Linked DNA regions of Homo sapiens. The protein of the gene in region 6 purifies or fractionates together with the protein of the main gene of each other region. This does not show direct contact. Each region holds a gene or a part of one and is shown on either strand. Other genes may lie near its edges. The genes, in order: VEGFD, CTPS2, HS6ST2, SERPINB7, SLC67A1 and CHST10.

Region 1 (3,500 bases), on a different chromosome or scaffold from region 6:
AGCAAGGCTGCACGCCCTCAAAACACTCTTGGAGAGAATCTTTTCTTGCTTCATCCAGCTTCTGATGGCTCTAGGCAATCCCCCGCTTGTCACTGCATCACTCCGGTCTCTGCCCCCATCTTCAAATGACCTTCCTCTGTGTCCCTGTCTTCTCTTCTGTCTCTTATAAGGACACTTGTCATTGTACAGTATTTAGGGTCCACATAGATAATCCAGGAGGATCTCATTTTAAGATCCTTAACTTCATTACATCTGTACAGATCCTTTGTCCAAATTAAGGTAATGTTCACAGGTTCTGTGGGTTAGGATGTGGACATATCATTTTGAGGCCCACCATTCAATGCACTACAATTTTCTTTGTAAGTGTTCTGAGAACCCAGGAAGAATAAGTAAATCCTCTGATTCAATCAAAAATGAGCAGAATGTAAACCAAAAATACTAGAAGATATCCTTTTTCCTAGGCACTGGCATACGTTTCAATAGTATCTCTAATTACAGATGTATTTACACTTCTAAGTGTCAGAAATGAAGATTATTATGACAAATTTAAAATTTAGTAACTTGTTTTTAAACTGGTATTTTTGTTTTTTTAAGCGATCATCTCAGTCCACATTGGAACGATCTGAACAGCAGATCAGGGCTGCTTCTAGTTTGGAGGAACTACTTCGAATTACTCACTCTGAGGACTGGAAGCTGTGGAGATGCAGGCTGAGGCTCAAAAGTTTTACCAGTATGGACTCTCGCTCAGCATCCCATCGGTCCACTAGGTTTGCGGCAACTTTCTATGACATTGAAACACTAAAAGGTAGGTGTGTGGATGTGGAGACAAATTCTTTCTCTTTATTAGATAGTGACAAACACACTTACTTTCTCCAAAAGTCTGCGTAGGGCAGACACGTGTCAGAGGGAGAATGAAAGTCGGTCTTTGATTTCCAGTATTAGTGCAGAATCTTGATTTTTTAATGTTTACTTCACAGAGAAATATATTCAATATGATTTTGAGATAAAAAACACAAAAGAACATCTCAAAATATAGAAATAAATTTAACTCAAGGATGTGGGGGCAAAGAAAACCCAGGAAGACTATTGTTCTCAATAGAAAAACAATCATCAGGTTTACTTAGAAAATAAAACCTGGGGATTCATCCACAAGGAGTATTCTACTGCCATACATACATAGACAAAAACCAAAGATGGCCAGGCATGGTGGCTCATGCCTGTAATCCCAGCACTTTGGGAGGCCAAGAACGGCAGATCGCTTGAGCCCAGGAGTTTGAAACCAGCCTGGGCAACATGACGAGACCCCATCTCTACAAAAAAATAGAAAAAAATAGCTGAACATTGTGGTACGTGCCTGTATTCCCAGCTACTTGGGAGGCTGAGGTGGGAGGATCGGCTGAGCCCAGGAGGTCGAGGCTGCAGTGAGCCATGATCATGCTACTGCACTCCAGCCTGGGCAACAGAGCAAGATCCTGTCTCAAAAAAACCACCCCCTCCCCGAACCAATAGATTAGGTATAGCTTTTTTTTTTATTTCTGCAAAGTTGTGTGATTTTTTAGTAAAAGTGAAAAGTAAAAGTTAGACACTGAGTTGTAATATTGGGTACTGGTATTGCTAGGAGAATAATGAAGGGAGAAAATTCTCAAGACAAAATGATCAAAACTCCAGACTAGAAAATAACATAATTTGAAATAAGGATAATGATCGTTCCCTAGTAACGTATGAAGATTCTTTAAAAGAAAATCAGGCCAGGTGTGGTGGATGACACCTGTAATCCCAGCACTTTGGGAGGTTGAGGCAGGTGGATCACCTGAGGTCAGGAGTTCGAGACCAGCCTGACCAACATGGTGAAAACCCATCTCTACTAAAAATACAAAATTAGCCAGGCATGGCGGTGCATGCCTGTAATCCCAACTACTTGGGAGGCTGAGGCAGGAGAATCACTTGAACCCAGGAGGCGGAGGTTGCAGTGAGCCAAGATTGCACCATTGCACTCCAACCTGGGCAACAAGAGTGAAACTCCATCTTAAAAAACAAAAAAACAAAACAAAACAAAACAAAAAAACAAAGAAAGAAAGAAAGAAAACCAGTGTGAGTAGGTACTGTCATAATGAATAAAATGCTTGTCAAGTAAAGTTCTGTGGTTTCTGATTAGGCACTTAATTTTTTGATGTCATGTCAAAACAACACAAGAAGCTGCTACAGCATTGCTGATCTAGCATTCTAGATTTGATTAACATGATTACCTGGTAACTGACTATATATATAGCATAATTCAAATTAACCACTAGGCCAAAACTATTTTTTTCTTTCTACCTAAAATTGTATTTGTTTTTTCCCATTTGTAAAAAGATGTTGGGGTTGCACAGACCTCTGTTGTTGGCTGTGGGGAGAGCTGTGCATAGATGGGGACATATTCTTTGGTAGCACCTTGGGCATGAGTGTGAAGAGGATTCTTAGTGTTCATGTGTATGACTGTGTGTCTAAGTGAGTTGATGTGGTAGGAACCATAGCCTCGAGCTCACTTCAGACAGAAATTTGAAGCTCTAGATGTTTCTATGTGGTGAATTAATATAGCCTTCATGAGAACAAAGGGTTGGCACCTCATCTAGAGGTCAAAGGCCTTAACCAGATTACCTGACTGAAGGCCTGAGGTGAACCTGGAGCTATTTCATGAACATGAACGTTACCATAAAACCAAGACTAGGTGATCTAAAAAAAGTCAATGACATTGACATTTTCTAAGGAGAAAACCATTAAAATATCACGGAATTTGCAAACCCTATGAATTTATCTCGTAATTTCTAGGGGATCATCTGAAGTTATTTACTAAGTTAGAAGCAGTCAATAATGAAATCAGCATGTTACACCAATTAGAATTTGTTATCAACTCTCCCTTGTGGATTTCAAGGTAATTTCCTGAGGCAGAGCAGTCCTGCTGGGAAGCAGTAAAGAATAGTAGAGTTATGAAGCCTTTAATCAGTGATGTTGGTCATAATTGCATATGATTTTGATTAAAAGCTTACCACTCCAATTTCAAAACTTAGTTTTATAAAAAGAGAAAAAGCAAATGGAAAGCAACCTTTAAGTAGAATTTTAAATTGGGAATATTTTCATAGGTTGGTTTCTTGTTTTTTCAAGGATTCATGATTAATTATAGTGAATTAAATAATAACCATAATAATACTTAATTGAGTAATTTATCTCTCATGTGTTCAGCCTTCAGGCTTTTTATATAAATATTAATAATCAGAAATTTTTAAAAAGGTTTCTTGGGGGCTGGGCACAGTGGCTCACGCCTTTAATCCCAGCACTTTGGGAGGCTGAGGTGGGCGGATCACAAGGTTAAGAGATCAAGACCAGCCTGGCCAACATGGTGAAACTCCGTCTCTACTAAAAATACAAAAATTAGCTGGGCATGGTGGCGCATACCTGTAATCCCAGCTACTTGGGAGGCTGAGGCAGGAGAATCGCTTGAACCCAGGAGGTGGAGGTTGCAG
Region 2 (3,500 bases), on a different chromosome or scaffold from region 6:
GCCTCCTGAGTAGCTGGGACTATAGGCGCCCACCACCACGCCCGGCTAATTTTTTGTATTTTTAGTAGAGACGGGGTTTCACCGTGTTAGACAGGATGGCCTCGATCTCCTGACCTCGTGATCCACCCGCCTCAGCCTCCCAAAGTGCTGGGATTACAGGCGTGAGCCACCACACCCGGCCCTTTTTAAATTTTTTTTAAAGACAGAGTCTCGCTCTGCCACCCAGGCTGGAGTGCAGTAGTGAGATCATGGCTCACTGCGGCCTCAAACTCCTGGGTATAAATGATCCTCCTGCCTCAGCCTCCCAAGTAGCTGGGACTACAGACCTGCACCACCACACTTGGCTGAGTCTTCTTTTTTGGAAAATAAACAAGAAGAAAGAAAACTGTTATTCCTTTAAGACAAGCATAAATTATTTCAGGTTCATGCCAAGATAACTCGTACTAATATAAATAAAACCTGTCAGCTCCACTGGTATGAGAAGTTGAGGTCTCACTCATAAAAATGGCTTTGAAGACATTTCAACAGCTCCTCTATGATTAAAACTAAAAATCAGCTTTGGCAGTCCTTCTTCAAAAGCTTAAATGGTGCACAGACACAACTGTTGAACACAACTTACAATCAACCAAAGAGGATGGTTGACCACTAGTATCCAATAAGCAAATATAAACATCAGGGTTATAACGGAGAAGGGGTTCTGTTTGTCAGTTTCCCTGTTTCCATGAAATTTAAAATCCAGCCAATGAGCTCCTGGAGAGCAGGAGTCAGATCACACTCAACCTCACATCCTTAGCAGCTATCATCAGGGCTAGTACATATTAAGTGCTAAATTAATCATTGTGAAGACAAGTCAATTCAAGGGTAGAATAAGAAATAAAATTAAAAATTTGCCAGGCATAGTGGTGGTACACTGTAGTCCCAGCTACTTGGGAGGCTGAGGCAAGATGATTGGTTGAGCCCAGAAGTTTGAGGCTGCAGTGGGCTTTGATCGCACCTGTGGATAGCTACTGCACTCCAGCCCGAGGCAACATAGCGAGACCCTATCTATAAAAAATAAATAGCCAGTAACTTTATCAGTTCTACTATTAACAAAATGGATCTTCTACATATCATGATATCTGCTAACACTTACATTGATGACAATAATAATAGCTAACTTATGTTCACTGAGCACTTCCTAAATGCCAGACATTGCAAAGTGCTCTGATACATTGCATTTAATCCCCAATCCTGTTATTATCTTATTATTATAATATTATATTATTACATTATTACAAATGAGGACGTTGAAACTGTGAGAATTTTCCAAAAGTCATACAGGCATCTTAATAATAGCTAATAATTTTTAAGCACTTACTATATCTGTGACACCATTCTAAGCACTAAGTGTAGAGACTTATTTAATCTTCAAAACAATGAGTTACAAATGAGTTAAATGAGTTAAAGAGGCACAGAGAGGTTGAGCAAACTTGCCCAAGGTCACCCCCTCCTCCCCATAAGTGACCTTGCTAGGCTACAAACCCAGACAGTTTGCCTCCAGACTCTTAATCACTGAGCTATACGTGGCTCAGGGGTCACTGCAGAAATACAAACTGAGGCAGCCTGACTCTAAGAACCAAATTGGTCATTATTCTGCTCTTTCGCCCGGCAATTAAGCCAACTGACATTTAGAGGAGGAGGATATGGATGTTATTGTCATTCTGCACGTGGAGAGGAAGGGAACAAGGTGAAGGAAGTAAACAAGTGGCAAGTTCAAATACGACTTTTTTTTTTTTTTTTTTTTTTTTTTAAATTAAGACAGGGTCTGGCTCCATCACCCAGGCTGAAGTGCTGGTGCAATCACTGCTCTCTGCAGCCTCAACCTCCCGGGCTCAAAAGATCCTCCCATCTCACCTTCTCAAGTAGCTGGGACTACAGGTGCGTACCAACATGCCTAGCTAATCTTTGTAGTCTCTGTAGAGACGGGTTTTCGCCATGTTGCCCAGGCTGTCTCAAACTCATGGACTCAAGCAATCCTCCCACCCTGGCATCTGAAAATGCCGGAATTGCAGGCATGAGCCACCTCGCGCAGCCACTAGCTTCTTTCTTTAAACAGCTGATACTAATCACTTATCACCGCTACCATCTGACTTCCCTAACCCAGTGTCTCTTTACACTTCCAAAGCACTTCGGAAATACTTTTCAAATAGTATGCACTAGAATGCAGTCTGTTGTGTGTAGACAGGGTTGTCTGCAAGCTCCCCAAGGTCAGAGACTGTGCCCATCCCAGGCCCCGGCACAGAAGAGGCCCTCACATTGACTTTATCAGCAGCTGATCAGTCTCCACAAGCAGATCACTGCACGTCCACCCAGGAGTAGGTGTGATTGTCTGTCTAATGCCAATCTTGCCCACTCACTTGTGACCACAAAGACAGAAGCCATCTATGTTGTTTCTTGCTGTGACCCCACCTCCTAGCCCAGTGTCCAGCACTCAGGAGGGCGTGTGTAAGTATTTGTCAAATAAATGAAGATCAGATGCTCAAAGACCCAGCAGGATATAATTTTATAAAGAAAGTTCTATGCTTGCCTCAATAACGCATATTTGGGGCTCTTCCTTATTACCATCCACCGGCACCTTGGCTTGATTCATAACCCACTCCTGGACAGCATCAGTAATGTGAGGGACAACTGTAGAAAGAAGTATTAATACAAAAGTTTATTCCATGCTCATGAGAAAAGAATGTGCTTTAGGCCTCCCCAATCACCTGAAAGTCACCTGGCAAGTTACCCTGACATATTTTTGGAAAATGAAAAGAAAAAAACGCAACAATTTTAAAAGAATTAGAACTTGTAGAGCGCAGGGACTGTGACATTTTCAGTTCTACTTGGTTTTTTTGGCTTTGTTTTGTTTTTTTTTTTTAAGATGGAGTCTCACTCTGTCGCCCAGGCTGGAGTGCAGTGGCACGATCTCGGCTCACTGCAATCTCTGCCTCCTGGGTTCGAGCAATTCTCCTGCCTCAGCCTCCCGAATAGCTGGGATTACAGGCATGCGCCACCATGCCTGGCTAATTTTTGTATTTTTAGTAGAGATGGGGTTTCACCATGTTGGTCAGGCTGGTCTCGAACTCCTGACCTCAGGTGATCCACTGGCCTCAGCCTCCCAAAGTGCTGGGATTACAGGCCTGAGCCACCGTGCCCGGCCTTCAGTTCTACTTTTGAGCAGTACAAAGATATTCAGCACACAGGGCTCCATAATGTCTGTGGAATATAATACCTTGCACTGTTTTCCCCAGGTAATCACCACGCCTCTCTTTATTGATCACATGCTGATATATCTTCCCCGTGGTGATATTGTTGTCTTTATAAAGATTAATATCCAAAAATCTTTCATAATTTCCAAGGTCTAAATCAACTTCTCCACCATCATTTAAGACGAAGACTTCACCTAGGATTAAAAAGGCAATGGAAAAATCAAAACTTTGCTTCCAGTAGATTTTTCAAAGATGGACATATTTTTGTTA
Region 3 (3,500 bases), on a different chromosome or scaffold from region 6:
GCCCAGGTTGCTCTCTGAGTGCCAGATCTGTTCATTCAACTCTACTCAGATGTCCCGCAGGCACCTCAGTCCTTCCTCCAGAGCTCTAGGAGGCATCCTTAAGTCCTCCTCCTCTTTCTCCCCCGAATCCCTTTTGTCACTTTTACCCGCTAAATATTTCTCTAGTCTGCTCCTCCTTCTCTTTTGCCTTGTCTTCTGCAGTGGCCTCTTAACTAACTTCACGAATTTCATCTTCATATACATAATGATCTTTCTAAAACACAGACCTCATCATGTCATTCCCCTGCTTAAAGCCCTTCAAAGCCTCTCTGTTGCCTGCAGAATTAACTTTGAATGCTTTAATATGGCATCTGTGGCCTTTCACAACCAGGTCCTGGGCTCCCTCTCCATCTTCAATTCCTGCCACTACTCCTTCACTCCCCGGGAGGTTTTTTGATGCACGTTTCTCTTGCACAATAGGCTGGTTTATGCCTCTGTGCCTCTGCTCATGCTGATCCTTCTGTCTCATACTCCTTTCCTCTCTCCTTGACTCATTTTTTTTTTTTTTTTTTTGAGATGGAGTCTCACACTCTGTCACCCAGGCTGGAGTGCAGTGGTGATACCATGGTGCACTGCAGCTTCTACCTCCTAGGCTCAAGTGATCCTCTCGCCTCAGCCTCCCTAGTAGCTGAGACTACAGGTGTGCACCACCACGCCCACTAATTTTTCTATTTTTTGCAGAGACAGGGTTTCACCATGTTGTTCAGGCTGGTCTTGAACTATTGGGTTCAAGTGATCTGCCCACCTTGGCCTCCCAAAGTGCTGGAATTACAGGTGTGAGCCACCGTGCCCAGTTGCCTCATCTAATTCTTGTTTTTCAAAATAAAGCTGCAGAAACCCTTGTCTTATCTTTAGGCTAGGTTAGAAATCAGTGTGAGGTGTTTTTTTTTAATCATACCCTGCACTTGCTCCAAGCATTCATGGCACACACAATTGAAACACTTTCCCCGGGTTTCCATGTCTTATCCCTGTCTGTATCCCCAGTGCCTGCCATAGTGCCAGGCACACATTAGGTGCCAAGACTAAGCAAGTCTTGACCTGACCTGACCACTGAGGGAAAACTGGCCATGTCTCTGTTTGCCCCCGACCCCAGCTGCATTCCCCAGCGTGCTTCTCTGATATTGCCCTAAAAGCTCTTCCTTGGATATAATGAGCATCCTGGATTCTTTTTCTGACATAACCTCCAAGGTGTTATCTTTACCTGCCTTCCTACTTCCAACACACCATGAAATTCAGGAGACCCCTGGACCCTGGACACCTACCCTTCAGCAGATCTTTCTTTCTTTCTACACATGGAATATTTCTAAGCAGCATCAAGTGCTTTCAGTTGAGGCATTCTGGGTCCCCAAGGCTATTTGCCCTGGAAGAAGGGGGCTGTTGACACTCACTGAATCTCTGCAGGTTTTGTCATATGAGTCTAGGTGGCTGTTATCACCAAGGCAGCAGTGTGTGTATGTGTGTGCCCCTCTAACTTCTCTGCTGCAGTGAAAATCCCTACAGTGTAGACACTGAGGCTGCCTACGTTGGGCTGTCCGTATTTCTTAAGGGCACTAGGTGACCTTCAAGTTGAATGCATACTGGATCCACACACCCACAACATGAGAGACCCTCTCTGAAAGTCTGTCTCTGTGTTGCCTTCTCTCTATCCATGTTGGGGTAGGGGTGGTGCTTATGAAACATTGATTGTGTCATTAACCCTGGTGGTTGGGATGTATTTGCTCTGAAAGGCTAGGAACAATGTTTAGGAAGGAGAGCTGCAGACTTCCACTGTGGTGCACTCTTAATATTTACCAGAAGATGTCACTGTAGGCTTAAACCAATACAAGAAGTTAGGGCAAGAAGACTTCCAGCTAAGCATGAAGGTGACTCCATTTTGGGGGGTTAGAACACCGAGCAGCCCCCATTACAATGCATGCCTGGAAAAGCTGGTTGAAAGGTTAATCCAAATGTGTCACAGACCTTAATAAATTTCTTTTTTTTTTTTTCCAAATAATCAGACTAATTGCCACTAAACTGTTGCCTCAGGGCTAGCATAAAGGCTCAATAAGTATGCACTGAATGGATGAGTACTAAAGCTAGGAGTGGAAGGAGGGAACCCAGGGCTTTAGTAGTCATCTTTGTTGGTAAAGGCTACTGGAGAACAAAAGCTGCTACTCTTTAGCAGTGGCTTCTCATAGAGATGAATTTTAGTGGCACCAACAAGATCAGGTCCTAGGGAAAGTAGTGAGACAAGTGAAAGTGCTCTTGGCCCCTTTTCCATCCTCACTCCCAGATGCTTCTCCTGTGCCCAATGCTTGTTTCTTCCTGAAAAAATATATAAAGTGATTTATTTTAAGAAAAACCTTCCTGTGATTTTTTGCAAGGCACTTAGAAGATTATCCAGAGTTTTTATGTCATGAGGCATGTCCCTAGCTCTCTCCTTCCTCTTCCCCAGGATAGTTCATCAAGTAAGCAGTTAAAGAAGTTACTGAGATTCTGCTTTATGCCAGGGATGAAGGCCAATGTACAAAGCTGGAATGGATGGGATGAGGGCTATATAGAAGAATAGGACAGAGCCCCTGTCCTTGAAAACATAGTTTAAGTGGAAATATAAACAATTAATTGTAATTCAGTATCACACATTTTTGGGGGAGGCAGTGGGGTGGAGGGGTAGGGTCTCACTCTATTGCTCAGGCTGAAATGCAGTGGCACAACCACAGCTCACTGCAACCTCCGTCTCCTGGGTTCAAGTGATTCTCGTGCCTCAGCCTCCTGAGTAGCTAGGATTACGGGAGCGCACAACCACACCTGGCTAATTTTTGTATTTTTAACAGATGGGGTTTCACCGTGTTGTCCAGGCTGGTCTCAAACTCCTTACCTCAAGCAACCCACCCACCTCAGCCTCCCAAACTGCTGGGATTACAGGCATGAGCCACCGTGCCCAGCCCCAGTATCACAAATATTTTAACAAAGGCTAAGTATAGAAGTGCTATGGCAACACAGAGGAAGAAATGATAACTGGCAACACAGAGTGGGGTACATTTTTTCACAAAAGAGATGGTACTTGAACTGGTATTGAAGGATGAGTAGAATTTTCCAGCCAAAGAGGGAAGATCATGGCAGGCAGAGCAAGCACCATGTACAGGATAGAGGCATAGGAGATAGATTTCAGGATGCCTGAGGTGATGGAAGCCCCAGTTGGGAGAAACGTTTCCTCAATGAACATCAGCCAATATTCAGTTAAGCAGGTGGCTGAGCAGGTTCCCTGTGGCTCCTCATGTATGTGTAGAGAACAACCACTCCCTCAGATGGGAATGAATATTTCAGAAAAGTTGCAAGCCATTCTCCGGGTTTCCTTTAAGAAGCTAAATGCTAATATTCAATGTTTATTGTTGCTTTCTTTCCACAATATGCCCTTCTGTGGCCTCGTCCTTCATCTTCTGTACCTGAGTGGTAACCCATTTCTCATGAAAAGCACAATG
Region 4 (3,226 bases), on a different chromosome or scaffold from region 6:
TTTTCTCCTAATTTCTTTTTATTTTAAAAAGCATTACTATATCATAATATTGTTTTAAACACTCTTCCTGCTAGTCCACACACCCTATGTAATGTAGCTATAGCAGACAGCTTGTAATGTAATATGCTGTTGAATCTAGATCTCTGATATCAATGTTAGTTCTATCATATTAAAAATTGGTGACATAATCTCTCCAGCATAACCCAGATGTGTGATTCTTTCCCTGCCCCAGTGAGACATCCTGTCTATCACATCCCAGTCCCCATGTGTATCAGGCTCAATTCTGGGGACCTGTCTCACTAAGCAGGTAGATTTCATGTGTGTTCTTTCTGAGGATTGGACTTTAAGTCAAAAAAGGCAACCTTTCCAGAGAAGGACCTTTGGTTCAAGGACAGAGAATTATCTGTCCTCCCCATGTAGGATGTTTTTTCCTAAAAGGGGATATTACAGAAATGTTGACAAGTTTGCAGATCGTAATATTACTAGGAGAAAATTTATTGCACCTCAGTGTTGTCTCTAAATCTATAAATGATATTCTCAAGATAAGAGCTACTTATTTTTTGCCCTAGTGAATTTGAGGGACATTATCAAATACCTTGCAGGAATCTCTATTTTTCTGAGACCTCATGCTTAAATAGCGTATTTTTTTTTTTTTTGAGACAGGGTCTTAAGCTTGCTCAGGCTGGAGTGTAGTGGTGAACTCACTGCTCACTCTAGCCTTGACCTCTTGGGCTCAGGTGGTCCTCCCACCTCAGCCTCCCAAGTAGCTGGGAGTACAGGCATGTTCCACCACACCCAGCTGTTTTTTATTTTATTTTATTTTTAGTAGAGATGCAGTCTCGCCATGTTGCTCAGCCTGGTCTTGAGCTCTTGGGCTCAAGTAGTCCTCTTGCCTGGACCTCCCAAAGTGCTGGGATTACAGGCATGAGCCACAGCGCCTGGTCTTAAATCATGTAATTTTGTTAGTACTAGTCTGTGTTTTACTTCTGAGAAGAAAAAAAAACCTATAGCATTCATTTTTCATTTTAATGTTATTTAGTAAATTTTCATTACTTATTATAGAGACTTTTCAGTTAAAATACTAAGTACAAGGCAATGTTCCAAGTGCTAGCTATATTAATTCACATAATCCTCACAACAATCCTGTACAGCAGGGATTATAGTCATTCCCATTCTATAGATGAGGAAATGGAGGAACAGAGAGGAACAGTAACTCACCCAAGGTCACATAGTTAGGAAATTTTAAACTCAAGGAATCAAATTTGAAGTCTTGGCTTTACCACTAAGATTTGCACCAATGCAACCACTATTGGTAACATGTCAGGAAAAAATCTGCAGGGTCAACTGAGCAAAAATTTATTGACCAAGTACAATATTCTTATATGTATTTGGTTAATAAAGTAAAATGAGGTGGGATCATAAATAATTTTTTGTGACTTGACTTTCAGTGCTCTGGGAAGGCAGTCGCCATGATGCATCAGGAACGGAAGTTCAATTTGTCTGTTATTGAGGACCCATCAATGAAGATTCTTGAGCTCAGATACAATGGTGGCATAAACATGTACGTTCTGCTGCCTGAGAATGACCTCTCTGAAGTAAGTTACGACTGTCATTTTCACTATTGGGAAATAAGACTTTTAGGATACTGTTGATTGAGTTTTCACTGATAAACTGTAAGATTTCAGGGTATTGAGATACTAGAGACTTACCTGCTTATTAATTTATTTGACAAATATTTAAGGGGTACCTAGTATGAGCCAGACATCATTATAGTTGCTGAGATTGACTTAACTCAGTTTAGCATAATTTCAGTTGAGTAGTGATCAAATTGGAACTCTCTCAAATGTCAGCTATGGAATTAAAAAGACATGAGTTTAGGCCTTTTTGGTGTTTGGCCATGAATACAGTCTTCTACGTGTCATTGAAATTTTGCTAGACTGAGCATCTTTAGGCAGGTATGATATGATAGAGTCCTGAGCCTTTTAGAATTAAAATGTATGGTCTCACTGTAATTGGACAAGAGGGTCTCCCTGCCTGCTGCACAGACAAAATCAATTCACTGAGGGCACAGCATTGTAGTAAAGAGAGTTTAATTGATGCAAGGCCGACCATGCCACATGGGAGATGAAGTCACTACTACTCAAATCAATCTCCCTGAAGGTTTGGAGGTTAGGAGTTTTCAAGGATAGTTTGGTGGGCAGCGGTCTAGGGAATGAGCACTGTTGATTGGGTGGGGATGCAGTCACAAGCGTGTGTAAAACTGTCCTCATGCACTGAGTCCACCTCTGGACTCTGTGGGGGCCAGAGGACCGGTTTAGTCATGAGTCATGAGTCCAAGTGGAGTTAGTGTCAGAAATGTAAAAGTCTGAAAAGACATCTCAAAAGGCCAGTCTTAGGTTCTACAATAGTGATAGTATCTACAAGAGTCATTGAGGGGGTTACAAATTTTATGGCCTCCATAACAATGATTGGTTAATGTTTACTATCTCTACATCGTGGCGGAATTCAGGCCTCTCTCATAATCATAATCATGTGGTCTTTCATTAGTTTTACAAAGGTGGTTTAGTTTTGGGAAGGGCTACTATGATCCTTGCTTTACATTCAAACTATAAACTAAATTTCTTCCAAAGTTATCTTAGCCTATGCCAAATAATGACCAACAACATCTTGGAGGTTAGCAGCAAGATCAAGTCAACTATGTCAGATTTCCTACTGTTATAATTTTGCAAAGGCAGTTTCATCACTCCATGCTGCTGTGTCTCAAGTGAAAAGCACAGTTTAGGGACTGCCCTGTGACTGATGTGGCAGGAGAAATGGACCAACACAGTGCAATGGGGAGACGGTGGGGGCCGTGCAAGCCAGACACCACCACTGAATCTCAGAGCCTGATCTTTTTTCAGCCCTTTTTCTGCTTTTCCTCCTCCTGAACTTGGCTCTTTGAGTTTGATCTGCAATCTCAGAGGCCTGGACTCATCTCCCTTCTCTATTCTCTCATTAAAAAGGAATAATAGGTGCCATTTATTGAGCACCTACTACATCCCAGGCCATGTGCTCTGAGCTTCATTTATATTACCTTGTTTGATGTTTATAGCAAGCATGTGAGATAGGGAAGGGAGGCTGACAGAATTTGGTCAATTTTTCTGATAGATACATATGTATAGATATGCATATTTGTGTGTATGTATGTGCACACACATATATGTATGTCAGCTATACTGAAAAGTTA
Region 5 (3,500 bases), on a different chromosome or scaffold from region 6:
ACTTCCTCCTGTCTCTCCCTGAGGGGAGGGGGCTGGCTGAGCCCCCAGGAGGCAATGGTGACAGTTGGAACAGCCAGCTTCAGGTGCCTCCGTCCCCAGGAGACAAGACCTGCCGATTCCTTCCAGGGGAATCACAGGCCAAGTTTCCAGGTGGGGACTCATGGCAGGGAAGCTGACGGTACAGCCAGAGTCCCAGGCCTTGGTAGTGGCCCAGGAAGGTGGGAAGGTGGCAAAGCAGCCTGAGGGGCACCTCCGGGGCTTTGCAAGGCTCTGGGATCCCAGCCCAAAGCCCCCTCCAAGCCCAGCATGCCCCACACTCTAGAAAGTGGGGAGGGGCCAACAGGAGGGGGGTCGGTTTCTGAGGGCCTGCTGAATGCCAGGCCCACCCTTGCCCACGCTGGGGAGGCAGCATAGCCATCCCCATGACACAGCACAGGTGCCCAGGTCTCGGAGAGCCCCTCCCAGGGACATGCACACCAGGCTTGCCCTTTGGAGCCTCTCCTGACCTTGGCCAGCGTGGGAGCTGCTGTTCCTGGGAGGATCCGCCACCTGCCCCAGGCGCTCACCAGCCTGGCTTCCACAGCTGCTACCCACAGGGGCTGCCGGGGCCTGCATGGCGTGGCGAGGGTCAGGGATGGTGAGCGCCCCACCCATTCCTTCATCCATCACCTAATAAATGTGCTCTGAGGGTCCCAGTCCCCACTCTTTAGGCCACAGACTGTGGGGATGTGGGAGGTCAGATTTAAGCTATTTTAGTGCAACCAAAGGTGCAGGTTGGGGGATGTGGCTGGGGCGCCTGGGCCCTGGGACCCGCACCCTGTGCAGCCGAGGCTGTTGCCCGCAGGATTCAGTGCCCGGCCATCCTGGCTGCCCTGGCCACCCTCCTGGGAGCTGTCCTCAGCTTCACCTGCATCCCCGCCAGCACCAAAGGGGCCAAAACTGACGCCCAGGCTCCACTGCCAGGTAAGCCCCGCCAGGTACACCCTGCCCAGATGCTGGGGCAATGGAAGGCATTGGCTAGGCCTGCGTGCTCCAGCCAAGGGGTACGGGGGGCCTGAGGGGAAATCTGGGGGCTACTCACACCCTCCTGCCTTCCTTGAACCCTTCCCAGCTGCTGACATCATAGAAGCCAAGTGAGGTGTGGTCATGAAGAGGTGGAAGTGGGGCTCCGGCAGGCAGGGAGGCCCAGAGAGGCAGGAAGGCCCAGACAGGGAAGGCGTTAGGAGGGGAGGCCCAGACAGGGAAGGTGCTAGGAGGGGAGGCCCAGAGAGGCCTGGGGAGGACCAGGAGGGACCCCCCCAATGGGGTGGGTGGGCCAGCAAGGCTCCGGAAGCTCTGAGTGTCCAGGGAGAGGCGAGGGTGCTGCCCGAGGGGCACTCATTGGTGGAGGGCAGAGGATGGTCAGGCTGGTCCCATGAGGAGAGGCCAAGGCTCCTCAGAGGGGGTCCCCTCAAGGCTGGCCCCCTGCTGAACGCAGCCCCTTTGTGCCAGGCACGTGGCAGGGCCCATGCCTCGGTGCCTAGGGACTAAGAGCCCAGCCTGGGCCAGAGGGACCCACCTGGGACCATCCTGGGGCAGGAGGCTGTCATGGAATTAACCTAGAAAGTCCAGGGGGAGGGCCGGGTGGAGATGGGCCTGTGGCGAGCACAGCAGAGCCAGAGAGGCAGGAGCCCCTGAGACAATAAGGAGGAAGGACTCGGTGAGCCGGGCTGGGGGCCTGTGGCTTCGCACTCAGAGGTGCCCGGTGGGCCAGGCCACGGCGGTGACTTGTGGCCACAGAGAGTGGTACAGTATTGCCATTGTCTTCCTCTGGGCTGGTGGCCTGGTCATGCTCTGCCCCAGGCCCCAGGCCAGGACCATATAGGAAGCAGCTATTGGTCCCTTGTTCAGGGACTGCCGCAGGCCTCCGCCACTGCATGCCCAGGTTGAGGCCAGTCTACCTGCGTGCAGAGAATGCTTTTCCTAAGTGCCTCTGGGGATTCAGGGGGCCCCTAGGAATGCGTAGAAGTGTGCTGAGGGGCGGTGCCCAACCTGGCAGCTGGGAGCATCACCAGCTCCCATTCCCACAAGTGAGCGGTGCTGAAGCCAAGGAAGGAAGCTTTACCCTGGCGGGCGCAACAGGGCCCTCCGAATGGCGAGGCCTGCAGCCGGGCGAGGGGTGGGCATTGGGACAATGGCCTTTGCAGGCCTGAATGGCCTCTCCGTGCCAGGCGGCCCCCGGGCCAGTGTGTTCGACCTGAAGGCCATCGCCTCCCTGCTGCGGCTGCCAGACGTCCCGAGGATCTTCCTGGTGAAGGTGGCCTCCAACTGCCCCACAGGTGAGTCCCAACTACTGCCCCAACAGCGGCCAGAGCCTGGCAGAGTCCCAGCTGCGGCCAGGGCCCGGCCCTTCCTCTGGCCTGTGCCCCACAGGTCCACACAGATGTGGTAGAGCAGGCAGGAGCGGGAGGAAGGCAGAAAAGTGTCTTTCCCACCTCCTTCCAGCCCCTCTACACTGCACACCTGCAGATCCCAGGGTGGGCCCCCACGGGCAGAGGGCCTGGCTCGCAGCCATGCATCCCTGTGTGCTCCTCAGCTCTTACCCTCATACCCTGTGGCCCCACGTCCTCTCCAGACAGCCTGAGATGCAGGGACAGCAGGTCTGAGTGTCACCACTGCCTTCTGCAGCATGCTGGCCCTGGGCCCTCTCAGCAGACCGTAGGGCGTCACGGACCACAGATAGGATAGCGAGCCACGGACAAGCCCACGAGCAGCCCTGTCCCTCAGAAGCCCCGCCTGGACTCCTCTAACTGAGAAGCCAGGAAGCAGGATGGAGAATAGGCCCTCAGCACTCCAACTGGCACCGGCCCCTGTCCCACCCAGCCCACCTAGGCCAGCTCTGTTGGTTCTCAAAACTGGAACCCAAGTTACTAACCTCAGTAACAGGCCCTTTGAGGGCCCTTTTTTTTTTGAGACCACTGACCAGGCTGGAGTGCAGTGGTATGATCTCAGCTCACTGTAGGCCCCACCTCCCAGGCTCAAGCAATCCTCCTGTCTCAGCCTCCCGAGCAGCTGGGACTACAGGCATGGGCCACCACGCTCAGCTAATTTAAGTGTTTGTAGAGACAGGGTCTCACTATCTTTTCCAGGCTGGTCTCAAACTCCTGGCCTCAATCAGTCCTCCCTCTTCGGCCTCCCAAAGTGCTGGGATTGCAGACGTGACTTTGAGGGCTCTTATAACAGAGAGCCGTGGTGGGTCTTGGGGGCCAAATCCTCCCACGTGGTCAGCCCTGGGTCCCTCCCTTCCAGCACCTTCCTGCTCACAGTCCAGAGCTTAGCAACCACACGAGAGGCACTTTCCACACCAGGGATACGGCAGAATCCCAGGGAAGGGTCTCATTGGCCCGGCTGGCATCACAGGCCCCTCCCTGAACCAGTCACCAGCCAGGGCCCAGACACCCTGATTGGCCAGGCTGCTGAGGCGGGAGGGAGGTGGGCGCCAAGGTCGGGGTGTGGGGGTA
Region 6 (3,500 bases):
AGACAAGGAGAGTGATTCACCTGGGTCTTCATGGAGCTCTGACCCACCCAGGGTTAGGAGGCTCTCTCTGAAATTATTTGCCATCAGCACTGTGTTGAGGGGACCACTTCTCCCTGCCATGCAGAAGTGATGGATGGCCTCAGTCAGTCGGTGGAAGCCAGCTCAGCCCAGGGTCTTGTCTGTACGTGGAGAGCTTTGGCTTGAAGAAGCACTGTGTTAAAGGTGAAATGAAACACACTTTCTTGTGTCACCTGCCAAGAACTGACAGTGACTTCCCAGTTCTTTATGTGCCTCCTGCAGGAGAGTGTGGCTTCTGTGCCAGGCTGAGGACCGACATGCCCCGTGTTGCTCCCTGGCTGTGACAGCATGAAAAACACCCACCTCAGTGTTCTACCCAGGCCGCTGCTGGCAAGTGGGCGGAGGCGAGAAGCGTCAGTGTTCATTCCTTTGCTTTTTTAGAGCTTCTCTAGGTGTGGCTACATCTTGTCAGCCAGTCAGAATTTTAAACACAGCCAGCTCCTAATTGCCCCAGCATGGCTTCTGCCCACTATGAATGACCCTCAGCTAAGGCCTAGTCCTTGGCAGGCCTCTTCCTGCCACCTGCTTCCAGACCATCGTGGGAGCTCACTGGGACCTTAGCCTGGGCCCAACAGGAGTCAGGGATCAAATGTGCAAAGGAGTCTTATTCTGTGTTCTGAGAACACAAGGAAGTGGTCTTCTCTCATTATCATGTCTCTCCATTAGGGTGTTCTAAATTTGATTTTATTATTGAATCAATCATTTATATTATTAATTCAATATGAAATGTTAAATGCCAAGTCAAACTACCTATTGTAGCAGTGGAAAAAAACGGAAATATTTGTGCTGATACTTACTGACTGAAATCACCTGTCGTTTTCATTCCTCTTTGTTGACTTGATGTATTTGTAAGCAGCAGGGGCATCTCGCTTGTGTTTTCCAGGAAGAGTCAGTGAATGGCTGCGGTGTGACAACATGCACCACCAGTGGCTTCTGCTGGCCGCATGCTTTTGGGTGATTTTCATGTTCATGGTGGCTAGCAAGTTCATCACGTTGACCTTTAAAGACCCAGATGGTACGTATGCTTCATGGTGGAACGAATTTTGGCTAATTTAGACCTAGCTGCAACACTGTTCCTAGGTACATGCATAGATGACTTCTGTCACAGAGTCAAAGGACTTTCATGCCAGCAGGGACCTTGGAGGTCATGGCCTCCGTTCCTTCATGTTACAGAGGTGTGAGGGGAGGTAGGGTGGGAGGGGCTGGAGGGTCTTTTCAAGCATCTCCTCTGGAGGAAGGAAGCTGCTCTTTGTGGCTGAGGCCTGGGTGGTGCCTAGGAGCAAGGAGCAGGGTCTCCTCCCAGCAGCACAGTGGCCTTATGCCTTGCAGCAGGGCGCCTCTCAGGCTCGCAGTTGGGAATTCTCTTTGCCTCATGTCATCATGAGAGGTGCAGCCTCAACTGCTTGGCATGCCCGTGTGGTGGCCACATGTTTGAAGGTCACCCTCCATGCAGCGGAGGAGGGTCATTTAAATGTATGTCTTCAGGTTGTCTTGGAGGCTTTCTTAGCTCTCCTTTACTGAACGTAGGCATTCAGATGAGGACGGATAAAGAGCGCCAAATTGGGTCTCAGAATGCTGATTCTACTTCGTGCTCTTGTCATTTGCTTATCTACATCACAATGTTTCTTCCACCAAATGGACACCCTGCCTGCTCCGGCACCGCCCATGATTGCCCTGAGCATGGTGAGGTGCTCTGTGGTCTGTGGAGTGCTGGATATGTCCAAAGAGGTGTGTGATATGCTCTCCAGCCCCGAGGCCACTTCATTGAGTGGCCAAGCAGGCAAGCACGAGGAAGCCAGACACATGGAGTCATTGAAGTCCTCATTTGTGCCGTGGATTGGCCCATTCCTTTAGGCTGATTGGGAGATACTGGGGAACGTGGATGAGCACAGCACTTTGCTGTGCTCTGCACCGTACTTTGTCCTCCTGCCGATGGTGGCCTTGGAAAGGGGCAGTTAGAGATGCCTCTGTGCCAGCAGTTCTTCCTGGAGGCTGCACTGACCTGTGCTGTCTGTGTGGGACAGGCCCCTGCTCCACCTCACAGAGCTCCCAGGCATGTCCCTGGCTGTGTCAAGGACTGCCCGATGTCCTACACCTCCTGCCCCATCCTCTCTCTGCCCCACCTTGTCTGCAGAGGGACAGCAAGGTTAGAAGGGAGGTCTGCAGGGAAAAGAGGGACACCCTGAAATTAGCCCACATGGTGGTTCTCCCCATGACAGTTGTTGGGCCCTGATTGGCTGTCATCACATGTCCTGCCTCATCCTCCAGGAGCCCTGGAGAGAAACCTGTGAGGTCTGCACAGCCTCGGGAGGTGATATTACACCTGCAGGTATCTGGGCAGGTGTCACTGAGCATGACAGCTCACGCCCGGGACTCGGGGTTCCGTCAGCAGAGCAAGGGTCGATTCTTGGAGGGTTGCTGGAATGTGACACGATGATCTCAGTTTGACAGTTTGGACATTTCCATGGCAGCTTCAGCACAGTGCCATGCCACTGAGAGATCCCTCCTGAAGCCCTAGAGCCGGGTTCTCATCCCCGCAGCACTTCAGAATCACCTGTGGGACTTTACAGACCTGCTGCTGCTTGAGACCCAGTGAAGGAGAATCACTAGGGGTGGGGCCCAGTTGAGAAGCACAGTGGTAGATCCTAGCTGGAGAACTGAAGAGAAACAGAGCTGCTGAGAATAAGAAATAGGTGTTACTCAGGATTCTCCTAAATGTCACCTCCTGGTATGGAAGGCACTCAAAAGGCAGGTCATGAGGTTAAATTGTTTATGGTTTATTTTGCTTAAAAAAGTAGGAGTAGATGTAATACATTTTAGTGAGACTTCTATAGGTAATAGTTAAATAAGACTTGTGCCTTTGTGTTTTACTGTTATCTGGCAGAATGGCCTCTAAAGAATGCCTTGTTTCCCAGCGGCATCTGGTAAATGAGGTCTCATTCTCCTTTGATGTATCAAGTTTTGTGCTGAATGTTTTCAGTGTAGACACTGATCCTGGAAGCTAAGCAGGGGTAGGCCCGGTTAGAAAAAAAGCAAGTGTAGGCGCAGAACAGGGTTTTGTGAAGCGGAGAAAAGGAGTGGTAAGGAGTGTTAGGAGATAAAACCTATGAAGAAAGATGAAGGGCTTTCGGATTTTACACCTGGAGAGGAGCACCGCAGCGGTCCTTAATACTGCCTGTGAGATCTTTCCAGCCGGCTGCCTTCAGGCGAGTGAAAGGGGGCACTTTCCCTGCCCTGTGAGATCTGGTGTGGTGTGTGGGTGCTGGGTCACTGAGATGGGAGTGCTGCCCCTGACCCCGAGGCAGGGGCTGCTGGTGGTGAGGATGCTGTTGGCCGCACAGTGTGCAGTGAACTCAGTGAGAATCTTCTGTTGTGGGCCCACTCCCGTTGCGGGGTGACCACCACAGCACTACCCAGCCTGC

What was found.
Region 1: the proteins of CHST10 (region 6) and VEGFD purify together in Homo sapiens (co-immunoprecipitation; one large-scale study listed by IntAct). This does not show direct contact.
Region 2: the proteins of CHST10 (region 6) and CTPS2 purify together in Homo sapiens (affinity purification with mass spectrometry; one large-scale study listed by BioGRID and IntAct). This does not show direct contact.
Region 3: the proteins of CHST10 (region 6) and HS6ST2 purify together in Homo sapiens (affinity purification with mass spectrometry, with the first as the bait; one large-scale study listed by BioGRID). This does not show direct contact.
Region 4: the proteins of CHST10 (region 6) and SERPINB7 purify together in Homo sapiens (affinity purification with mass spectrometry; one large-scale study listed by BioGRID and IntAct). This does not show direct contact.
Region 5: the proteins of CHST10 (region 6) and SLC67A1 purify together in Homo sapiens (affinity purification with mass spectrometry; one large-scale study listed by BioGRID and IntAct). This does not show direct contact.

Annotation. Positions count from the first base shown.
Region 1 is NC_000023.11:15,360,414-15,363,913, reverse strand, and holds part of VEGFD (vascular endothelial growth factor D preproprotein), read left to right. Parts: intron 1-594; coding exon 595-805; intron 806-3,500. UniProt on the Homo sapiens protein: Growth factor active in angiogenesis, lymphangiogenesis and endothelial cell growth, stimulating their proliferation and migration and also has effects on the permeability of blood vessels.
Region 2 is NC_000023.11:16,695,670-16,699,169, forward strand, and holds part of CTPS2 (CTP synthase 2), read right to left. Parts: intron 3,425-3,500; coding exon 3,254-3,424; intron 2,668-3,253; coding exon 2,567-2,667; intron 1-2,566. UniProt on the Homo sapiens protein: Catalyzes the ATP-dependent amination of UTP to CTP with either L-glutamine or ammonia as the source of nitrogen. Constitutes the rate-limiting enzyme in the synthesis of cytosine nucleotides.
Region 3 is NC_000023.11:132,630,130-132,633,629, reverse strand, and holds part of HS6ST2 (heparan-sulfate 6-O-sulfotransferase 2), read left to right. Parts: intron 1-3,500. UniProt on the Homo sapiens protein: 6-O-sulfation enzyme which catalyzes the transfer of sulfate from 3'-phosphoadenosine 5'-phosphosulfate (PAPS) to position 6 of the N-sulfoglucosamine residue (GlcNS) of heparan sulfate.
Region 4 is NC_000018.10:63,799,418-63,802,643, forward strand, and holds part of SERPINB7 (serpin B7), read left to right. Parts: intron 1-1,448; coding exon 1,449-1,595; intron 1,596-3,226. UniProt on the Homo sapiens protein: Might function as an inhibitor of Lys-specific proteases. Might influence the maturation of megakaryocytes via its action as a serpin.
Region 5 is NC_000011.10:2,915,778-2,919,277, forward strand, and holds part of SLC67A1 (solute carrier family 67 member A1), read left to right. Parts: exon of another isoform or gene 1-422; coding exon of another isoform or gene 423-637; intron 638-844; coding exon 845-963; intron 964-2,210; coding exon 2,211-2,318; intron 2,319-3,500. UniProt on the Homo sapiens protein: May act as a transporter of organic cations based on a proton efflux antiport mechanism. May play a role in the transport of chloroquine and quinidine-related compounds in kidney. Plays a role in the regulation of lipid metabolism.
Region 6 is NC_000002.12:100,404,169-100,407,668, reverse strand, and holds part of CHST10 (carbohydrate sulfotransferase 10), read left to right. Parts: exon of another isoform or gene 1-222; intron 223-961; 5' UTR 962-993; coding exon 994-1,093; intron 1,094-3,500. UniProt on the Homo sapiens protein: Catalyzes the transfer of sulfate from 3'-phosphoadenylyl sulfate (PAPS) to position 3 of terminal glucuronic acid of both protein- and lipid-linked oligosaccharides.